2 separate regions of the Homo sapiens genome follow, and region 1 is linked to region 2. The links come from fine-mapping of genetic effects on gene expression. A gene starts in region 2. The other region holds a variant in brackets. All regions are shown on one strand. Distances are from middle to middle. Region 1 has its middle 24 kb from the start of C9orf72. Region 2 holds the start of C9orf72 (C9orf72-SMCR8 complex subunit).

What was found. PIP is the estimated chance that this variant, and not a neighbour inherited with it, causes the effect.
Region 1: its variant is fine-mapped to the expression of C9orf72 in whole blood (TOPMed, PIP above 0.99).

The regions. Positions count from the first base shown.
Region 1 is chr9:27,595,170-27,600,550 of GRCh38, forward strand. No RefSeq gene overlaps it. Among named protein-coding and RNA genes, the nearest start is that of C9orf72, 24 kb to the left of the region's middle. The variant T/C (reference allele first, on the strand shown) is at 1,998.
Region 2 is chr9:27,570,266-27,575,646 of GRCh38, forward strand. C9orf72 (C9orf72-SMCR8 complex subunit) reads right to left here and starts at 3,216. Exons shown (of 11, transcript NM_018325.5): 1 at 3,166-3,216. RefSeq lists enhancers at 2,610-2,699, 3,298-3,825 and a silencer at 3,210-3,289.

The sequences.
Region 1 (5,381 bases), 25 kb after region 2:
AGCAACGATAAACACTCAGGACGACTAGATGGGAGAGGGAAGCACGGGCTAAAAATTCACCTATTACGTACTATGTTTACCACCTGGGTGATGGGACCATCATCAGCATTATGCAATATACCCATGTAACAACCCCGCACATTTACCCTCTGAATCCAAAACAAAAAGAACAACAACAAAAATGCCTCTTCTACTATAATGTAAAATCTATGAAGGGAAGAATTTAAAAAACTTAAAATATTTAACATTATACAAGTCATATGTGTTATATATATTTAAATAGTCATATTCAACTTAGTATGTTTATTCATTATTGCCTGCTTCATCCCTATTGAATGTAGTCTTGACAGGAATTTCTATCCTTTTTGTCTGTGTAGTTCATCAACGTATCCTCAGTGCCCATATGCGGAGTGAACAATTCAGAGTAATCAAGGACAACTCCAGCATTCCTAGTCTGAAAACTGGAAGGTTGAATTCGCTGTTCATAGGCGACAGGAGGAGTGAAGAGAGAAAGAGGGAGGAGTGAAGAGAGAAAGGGAGAGGAGCGAAGAGAGAGAGAGGAGAGAAGAGCTGCAGCCCTTTGGCAGCCCAGACCTGGGAGCTCCCGAAGCTAGGGCTGTGATTTGCCTTTTGGAGCCCTGAGGTTCCTGGAGTCTCCAAGTTTCCAGGCACCAATGCGTTCCGTTGCTGCGCTGCTTGGTGCAGCCACAGCCTTGCAGTGAGCCAGCACCCGTGCCAGCACCTGAAGCTGCCCATCCCGCTGTAGCAGCCATTGAGCCTGACTGTGTGCCAGACCCCACGCTCACTTCCTCACACATCCCTCACCGCTTCGCTCCAGTCTCTTTGGAGGCATGGGATCCACGCCAGTAGTGTCAGCTGAGCGCAGCCTGCCAGGATGAGTGGGCCCAGTGGACCCGAGCAAAACTCATGCAAAGGTGCCACCGCCACAGAGGTTTCTGGACAGAAAAGCAACACCCCCAAGGATCCCATAACAGTATCAGTATTTTTCAGTCAGGAGGAAATTGCCTACTTCTTGTTGAGCAGTGTTGCTAAGGGTGTATTTAGGAGTTGTATCAGTTTCTAGGGCTGCTGTAATAAATTTACTACGAACTGTGGCTTCAAATAACAGCAATGTATCCTTTCACAGTTTTGCGGGCCAGAGCCCAAAAGCAAGGTGTTAGTAGGGCTGTGCTCCTTTAAAGGCTTTAGGGAAGAGTCCTTCCTTGCCTCTTCCAGCTTCTGGTGGCTGCTGGAAGTCCTTGGTTTCCTTGATTGGTGGCCACATCACTCCAATCTCTGCTGCTCCAAATCTCACATCACCTTCTCCTCTTCTGTTATGAGGATACTTGTCATTAAATGTAGGGCCCACCTATGTAATCCAGGATGATCTAATTTCAATATCTTTGACTTAATTACATGTGCAAAAACCCCTTTTCACAGCTTCCAGGGATTTGGACATGAACATTTTTAAGTGGGGGGCCATTATTTGACCCACTACAAGAGTTCAAAGCCTTCTCGGGAAATACCATCCCTTACCCACTGACATGAGTCTGTTCATGCTGGGAGTGGTAGAAGATACCAGGACCTGAATGCCTTTGTTCCCATCTTTAACAGACACCACCCAAATTCAGTAATGGAGCAAGTGAATTTAGCACGAGTACATTTAATCTTCACACATATGTTGCTGGGTGCTAGAATTTAAAACATTGTTTTCAGCGCCCCCATTCTGACTGGTTCCCAGGGATGTAAGTCTCCTCAACACCCTGGCCAAAGCCTTACCTATTCTCTGAACCCCGCTCTGTTTTGTGCTATGGGTGGGAGGAGGGCATTACTTATTGACCTCCCTGTCCTCAATAACCTGGGTAACCGGAGACAGAGGAATCGAGCACCTCTATCCCTAAACCATCATGTTGGAAATTCCTTACTGAAGCAAGTCATTCACAGTTGTGTCTTCCAAACAGTGCAATTTCATTTGTGTGTTAGGACAGCAACTCTAC[T/C]AGAAACTACTTCACATCAATAGAAACATCATTACAAAACAAGATCAATATTTCTGATTTTCATGCTTAGTGTTATTTTTTGAGAATGACCAGAAATTTTCATTTATATAGAGATATACTCTATTCTGATAATCAGAAAGAACAGATAATGACTTTGGAGAACATCAAGATTAAGGTTCCTAAGGTAAACATTTACTCCCTGGTCAATATAATATTAAAACCACTAGTACGTTTTACCTGAAAGAAAAATGAATCCATTTTTTTGGTCAACGAGTAATATAGGAAGTCCTATATCTGTTGCATTTATTTTTAAACTTCTTTTTAAGTATAAGAATACAGTACATATATGGAAAAGTATGCAGTTCATAGGTGCACAGCCTAGTCAATTATCACAAAGTAAACACATCTGTTTAATCACCATCCAGGTCAAGGAAAATACCATTGCCCACCTCACTGTCTTCAGGAAAGACCCCTGAGCCCCTTCTCTATCACTACCTTGTCCTTCTCACCAAAAGTAGCCGCTATCTTGATTGCTAAAAGGATTAATTTTGCCTGCTTTAGAATTTTATACTACATATATTCTTTAAGCTTTTAAAAGTCAAAATATCTGGAAACCACTCCTTTCATGATATTTCATCTCAGAGGTAGAATAATTATTTCTTTGTAGGTAACTCTCTGTCGGAAAGATGAATAGCTTACTCCATAAATCATTAGCATAAAAACTTATTTATAATTTACATGAGAAGTCAGTATGAAGAGTAACATTATGACCTTGTGGTCAACACAATCACACAAATGGAATTATTAAAAATAAAGATAAATGAACCATGGAATTTTCAATTCGTAATTTACCTGGTTCTCTCTGTTCCTGTCCTTCTCTCTTGATAGTAAGGTGACTTTAGCCTTTGGGACACAGTAACATTCTCTTGATTATTAAAAGTTTTTTTCTCTCTACCTGCTTGGTCTCTTGTTCATATGCAATTTTTCTCAACAAAAAGTGTTATTGTTTAGTAGTTAAAAAAAGAAATGACTTCAAAGTCAACAATATGTAGAAAGGCTTATATTTGGTGGCATATTTCAAAAATTATGAGTGACCTCAATTCTTATTAACACATGTAAGCATTATATTTACTCAATTCCAAGGAGAAATCAGGCGTAAGATGCAATGACAAAAGAAAAGGAAAGGCTGCATTGTATATAAAATCAGGTGTAGGTACAATCGAGTTTCACAAATGTTGAAATGTGAAGGGAAAAGTGCATCTTAGGATTTAGGAATAGTGCCATTTGCTGATGATATCAGCAGCGATATGGTCCAGAGGTGGCTTGATGTTATTATAATTTCCTCTAAAAATACAAAAAATAAAAATAAAAAGTTCAGGAAGTCATTTAGAAATTTACATTGATGTCCCTCAGCTGTCCCTAGAAGTAGGAACGAGTTACCCTTTAGACATAATGGGGACATTTGTGCGTGCTGTCATTTTAGGAGTTCTACAAAGCCCCACTTTCCCTCAAATGTTTATTGTCTACCATTCCTTTCTACTATCTTAAAAATCCCATCAAAACAAAACAAATAAAAGATAACTATGTGAGATGATGAATATGTTAATTTGCTTCACTACAGTTACCTTTTCACTATCTATATCCATCTTATAACATCACGTTGTATACCTTAAAAATACGCAGTAAAATTTATTTTTTAAAAAAGAATCCCATCTTTTTTTTTTTTTTTTTTTTTTTTTTTTGGATGGGGTCTCACTTTGTCACCCAGGCTGGAGTGCAGTGGAGCGATCTCCGCTCACTGCAAACTCCACCTCCTGGGTTCAAGCGAAGAATCCCATCTTTTGAATTAGTCCTTTGAACACTATTTGTACAAGATGTCTGGAAAAGGCAACTGGCTCCTGAATTTCTCCTCTAGCTTTCTCTTACTTCATTTGCATGGCTTAATTGTATATGTTAGCTAATTGTCATTATTAAAAGCACAGATCCTGACCTTAAGGGAATGAAGTGCTGGACAGATACCTCTTAATTTCCGCAACTGCAATCTCAGTTTACTGAGAATGGAAAACTCCCTCCAAGGCCTGAGAATTCTTGGTTAACACGGAGGGCATTTCCCAAGAGTGTAGAAGAGGAAGCCCAACAGGCTGAGTAAGCTATTTCTTCACCTTGTATATTTAAGTTAGAGTACTACCTCTTTTGTGTGAACTTTAGGGAGTGGTCAGTAAATGCCACTTATTTCAAATTGTTTCACTTTGGCTTGCTGGAAAGTAGATGTATTTTAGAGCAAGGTCATTTGGTATATTTGTAAAAATATACCAGACTTTCTTGATTATTTTCTTTAAATTAAGCTTACTTTTTGAAATATTATTTATTTTAAAGTAAGATTTTATATAAGTTCTCTAAATAGAATACCACTATCACTTCCCATAAATAGAAGATAAACCCATTTCCCGTTTTGGGAAATCGCTTAGAAGAATGAATTTGGAATTTGGAATCAGAAGACCGGAGTAGTCATCTCAGCTCTGCTACTTCTGTGTTTTCTGGTTCTGGGAAAATCACTTGACTTCTCTGAGTCCCAGTCTCTTCATAAAAAAAAAAAAAAAAAAAAAAAAGGGACGGGATAACAATGTCTTCTTTCTTTCTCAAAATGACATTAACTAAATCAAGCTGCAAAGGGAAATATGTGGTTCTTTTTATTTGTAAGCTTAAAGTCCAAGCAGTTATGACAAATGGGTTTCACCTGAAGTGCAAATGCCCATTTATTCCTAGTGGTTCCTGGACCCCTTTATTGAGAAGGGTTGTGATGACCTGCCCCAAGCAAGGGGGGAAGAAGGCTGCTACTGCATAGTTCACGCTACTTAACTCCTGCCTCCTCTTTACCGAGCCCTCTTAGCTCACCAGAATCTGCATCTCAGAAGCCACCTCCCATTCAGCATGAACTTCCTTTTTATAAGAGCCCCCAAAAGTCACCTCAGGTAAATCACACTCATGAAATCTCTTTTCAGCCTAAAACTGTCTCCTAAAATGAAGCCCTCCCAGGCCCTTCTAATTCTGTCACCACTTTCTCACTCCTCCAAAATAAACTGCTTTTCAGTCCAAGGAATTCTTTAGAGAGAGAAGAAGAAACAAGGATCTGCCCGTGTAATTCTGTTGTTCTATCACTTTCTTTGCTTCATTATGTGTCACAGAGGTTTAGCAAGTACTCTCCAGAGGAGGCTGGGGTGGAGGAAAAATGTGTGAGGCCTGTGGCCTAGTTACTGTTGAAGTCTTCCTAGCAGCTTGCTTAATGCTAATTTCCTAGGCTTTGCAAATAGATCCTGCAGTGGAAACTGCTACCAATAGTGACGTAGTTGAAAAACCATGGGCCATAAAAAACTATTTATGACA
Region 2 (5,381 bases):
ACACTACTGCTGTCATAACTAACAACAGCAAACTGGAGGCCAACATAATGAATTAAGTTAACATACAACCATAAAATTATATTGCAAACATATTTTTCTTTCATTCTTTTAGGTTAAAAAGGTGGATAATCATAAAGGCAATATTACAACTCTAATATTTCATCATTAAACTGAAAATAAAAGTATTTCCTAAAACAGAACTGAACCCTGGAGCAAAATCTGATTGAATTATAGGGAAACTTTTACCACGTTGTGAAAATTGAACTATTATACTGCTAGTTACACTCTCACTCCTAACAGAATAAGAAAAAAAAAATGGGCCGGGCATGGTGGGTCACACCTGTTATCCCAGCTCTTTGGTAGGCCGAGGCAGGTGGATCACCTGAGGTCAGGAGCTCAAGACCAGCCTGGCCAACATGGTGAAACCCCACCTCTACTAAAAATACAAAAAATTAGCCGGGTGTGGTGGTGGACACCTGTAATCCCAGCTACTCGGGAGGCTGAGGCAGGAGAATCTCTTGAACCCGGAGGTGGCAGAGGTTGCAATGAGCTGAGATGGCGCCACTGCACTCCAGCCTGGGCGACAGAGAGAGACTCTGCCTCAAGAAAAAAACAAACAAACAAACAAACAAAAAGAATAAGAAAGAAAATGAAGGACAAAGATCATACTGAATTGCTTAGTTTTAAATCCTACCAAAAGAAATAGCCTGGGAAATGAAATGTCACAGAGAAGTATAATCAGGAGAGCTGTACAATTATTTTACTAATACTTGAAGTCATCGTCTTTGGTGAGAAAAATCCATACATGCAAATGCAGCTGAAAAAAATCAGCTCAAAACCAATAGTTGTTTATGTACCTATCTTACGTACATGTAGTGCTGTCTACTCCAGAGAGTTACCAAACATTAGCCAGTCTTTTGAGGGAAGCCAAGATTCAAATTGAGTGAGACGGTGGCTTGCTCACAGGGTTCATGAGAGGTTTCCCAATACACTTTCTGGAAATAATCCCATACATGCAGACATGATTACATTAATTAACATCTGCTAAAACTGTTAGTAGAGTGCTAAGTTTGAGGTTTTGCTTTTTCTTTAAACGTCTGTTAAAAAATCAACCATCTCTTCCCTGATTGGTATTTAGAAAGGTGGTTGGTCCACTGCTATTGTAGTGAAAATTCTACAATCATAAAGCCCTCACTTCTTGTTTTTTAGAGACAGGGTCTCGTTTTGTCATCCAGGCTGGAATGCACTGGCAGGATCATAGCTCTCGGTAACTTCAAACTCTTGGGCTCAAATGACCCTCCTGCCTCAGCCTCCCAAGTAGCTAGGACTACAGGTGCACATCACCACGCCCGGCTAAGTTTTTAATTTTTTGTAGAGACAGGGTCTACGTTGCCCAGGTTGAGCTTGAACTCCTGGCTTCAAGTGATCCTCTTGCCTCCGCCTCCCAAAGCTCTGGCATTACAGGTGTAAGCCACCTTCTCCAACCTGGCTCTCAATACTTGTAACCATGCTGTTTATTTTCTCCCAGCCCAAAGAGAAGCAGGATCCTAAACCGTCCACTTTCCACAACAGGAGCTGCCCAGGACCACTTCAAGGACAGTGAACTGTTTACAGTACCAGAAAGTTCACAACACTTTCTCAATCTTCAACATCAGGGAAGACTGGAAGGTGAAGTTCATATCACTATCTGGCCATTTCTCACAGTTCCAAGTTTCTCAGACAATAGGTAGGCTAACCTAGTCCTCCTGGGAACTATCTAATTAACGTAGAATAGAACCCGAGGGCAGACTTGAAAAACAGAAGTCCTCCTTGGTTTACTTTGTTTCTCTGAAAGCAAATTGTGGAGTGCCAACATAGCCAAACAAAATATTTTATCAACTTCATAAGGTGCTTGTAATTTTTTCCTGGAGCAGGTAAATGCTGGCTTAGTGAACAATCTGGAATGTGGTAATTACTCTCGTTCTTGTTTCAGATGTACTATCAGCATGTAGCAGTTTCCAACTGATTCAGGGTTTTCCTAAAGTGGCAGGCCTTGGCAGAGGTGGTGACAACAATGCCCGTGTCAAATGACACCGTATTTCAAGTATTCTGACTCCAGGTTATTAATATCCCCTATATGATAGTCTTGTTTCTGTGATATTCACAGATTATGTTAAAAGTTTCCCAAAGTCTGAGAAAAATCATATCTTAACAGTATCTTTTTTTTTTTTGATCCTTTGTACAAAAGTAGAAGTAATGCCAGACAGATTACGTACCCTTGTTGTGAACAACTGGTGCATGGCAACTGTTTGAATAGAAATTTACCAACTGCCACAACCAGGCAACTACTCTCCCAGAGCCTAACAATCTCGATTGCATCTGAAAGGGCCACCCCTCCTGGGAAAGTGCAGGACCTCCCTCCTGTTTCTGAATACAAAGCCTGGTGGTGTTCAACGCGGCCAGATAGACCCAATGAGCACACGGACATGTAATCTGTGCACTTCTTTAGACAACTGATTACCATCAGTCAAGTGATGCCCAAGTCACAATAGTCACTTCCTTTAAGCAAGTCTGTGTCATCTCGGAGCTGTGAAGCAACCAGGTCATGTCCCACAGAATGGGGAGCACACCGACTTGCATTGCTGCCCTCATATGCAAGTCATCACCACTCTCTAGAAGCTTGGGCTGAAATTGTGCAGGCGTCTCCACACCCCCATCTCATCCCGCATGATCTCCTCGCCGGCAGGGACCGTCTCGGGTTCCTAGCGAACCCCGACTTGGTCCGCAGAAGCCGCGCGCCGCCCACCCTCCGGCCTTCCCCCAGGCGAGGCCTCTCAGTACCCGAGGCTCCCTTTTCTCGAGCCCGCAGCGGCAGCGCTCCCAGCGGGTCCCCGGGAAGGAGACAGCTCGGGTACTGAGGGCGGGAAAGCAAGGAAGAGGCCAGATCCCCATCCCTTGTCCCTGCGCCGCCGCCGCCGCCGCCGCCGCCGGGAAGCCCGGGGCCCGGATGCAGGCAATTCCACCAGTCGCTAGAGGCGAAAGCCCGACACCCAGCTTCGGTCAGAGAAATGAGAGGGAAAGTAAAAATGCGTCGAGCTCTGAGGAGAGCCCCCGCTTCTACCCGCGCCTCTTCCCGGCAGCCGAACCCCAAACAGCCACCCGCCAGGATGCCGCCTCCTCACTCACCCACTCGCCACCGCCTGCGCCTCCGCCGCCGCGGGCGCAGGCACCGCAACCGCAGCCCCGCCCCGGGCCCGCCCCCGGGCCCGCCCCGACCACGCCCCGGCCCCGGCCCCGGCCCCTAGCGCGCGACTCCTGAGTTCCAGAGCTTGCTACAGGCTGCGGTTGTTTCCCTCCTTGTTTTCTTCTGGTTAATCTTTATCAGGTCTTTTCTTGTTCACCCTCAGCGAGTACTGTGAGAGCAAGTAGTGGGGAGAGAGGGTGGGAAAAACAAAAACACACACCTCCTAAACCCACACCTGCTCTTGCTAGACCCCGCCCCCAAAAGAGAAGCAACCGGGCAGCAGGGACGGCTGACACACCAAGCGTCATCTTTTACGTGGGCGGAACTTGTCGCTGTTTGACGCACCTCTCTTTCCTAGCGGGACACCGTAGGTTACGTCTGTCTGTTTTCTATGTGCGATGACGTTTTCTCACGAGGCTAGCGAAATGGGGCGGGGCAACTTGTCCTGTTCTTTTATCTTAAGACCCGCTCTGGAGGAGCGTTGGCGCAATAGCGTGTGCGAACCTTAATAGGGGAGGCTGCTGGATCTGGAGAAAGTGAAGACGATTTCGTGGTTTTGAATGGTTTTGTTTGTGCTTGGTAGGCAGTGGGCGCTCAACACATAATTGGTGGATGAAATTTTGTTTTTACCGTAAGACACTGTTAAGTGCATTCAAAACTCCACTGCAAACCCTGGTAGGGGACAGCTCCGGCACTGCGGGCGGGAATCCCACGGTCCCCTGCAAAGTCATCGCAATTTTGCCTTTACATGTAAGAATTCTCTCAAGCATGATTTTCACACTGGGGAATGTCATTTTTGCTAGTTGCAATATGTGGATGAGTTGTTTTTTTTTAACTTTTGAAAAACGTACCATTCTGTTTGATGTGTAAAAAACACAAAGATTTTTGAAACCTTGCGTCTTTTGGTCTGCAGGTGTATAGATTCCACTTACTACAGATGAGTAGCATTTACACCACTCAGATGTGTAAAAAAACAAAGGTTTTTTAAACTGTGTGCCTTTTGATCTGCAAGTGTGAGATGGCACTTACTACAGTGAGTAGCATTTAATCTTTTTCATCACTAAAAATCACACAGAACGTTTTAATCATTCACCGAGGAAGAAAGGGAGGAATAAATACACAAAATGGCTCTCAACGTCTACACCTTCTGCAGAAACAGACCCTTTTCCTACTGTTCTATGCTTTGTGAAAGTTGATCATACAAATTGGGTCATTCTTTTTATACCCAACTAAAATAGTGGGGGTAGGGGGTAGAAAAGCACTTAGGACAAATGACACTGCTCCCACAGTGTAATTCTCTCCAAGTCCAGCTGCTGCAACTGCCCGTTGTGACCTGAGACCAGTTTTATCTAATAGTTGCTAAAATGACCTGCTGCAGCTCTAATTTTATCTACCACCATCACTCACCAGTTGAAACTCACCAGCTCCTCAGATCCTTAATAGTGCCAATGAATTTTCTCAAAGAGCACTATGTAACATTTCTCTTTTTTAACAAAACCTCCCCCTTTTCTTTGTTGTGTGGATATACCGAAGACCATCTGATCTACATGTATGCCCTAATTGCAATTCTTTCTTCCCAAATAAATCACTTAATTTAGAGATTCATCTCTGTATTTTTATTTTGACTGACAGCTTATAACAAGTAGCTAGCATTTACCAAGTTTCTACACTGAGTTGTACTTCACTTATACGTGGAATTAAAAAACAACTGAATTTATAGAAACAGAGTAGACCCTTGGTTGGGGGGCTTGGGGGGAAAGAAAATTGTAGGGTAGGGTACAAAGTTGCAGTTACGTCTAATACATCTAGAGATTTAATGTACAACATGAGGACTAGCGTTAATAATTGTGTTAGTCCATTCTTACACTGCTATAAAGAAATAACTGAAACTGGGTAATTTATAAAGAAAAGTTTAATGGCTCACAGTTCTGCAGGCTGTACAAGAAGCATGGCTGGATCAGCTTCTGGGCAGGCCATAGGGAACTTAAAATCATGATGGAAGGCATAGGGAGACCCCAGACTTCACATGGCAGGAACTGGGGGAAGAGAGAAATGGGAGGTGCTACATACGTTTAAACAACTAGATCTTGTCAGAACTCACTATATAGTACCAAGAGGGGACTGTACAAAACCATTAGAAGCCACCCCATAATCCACT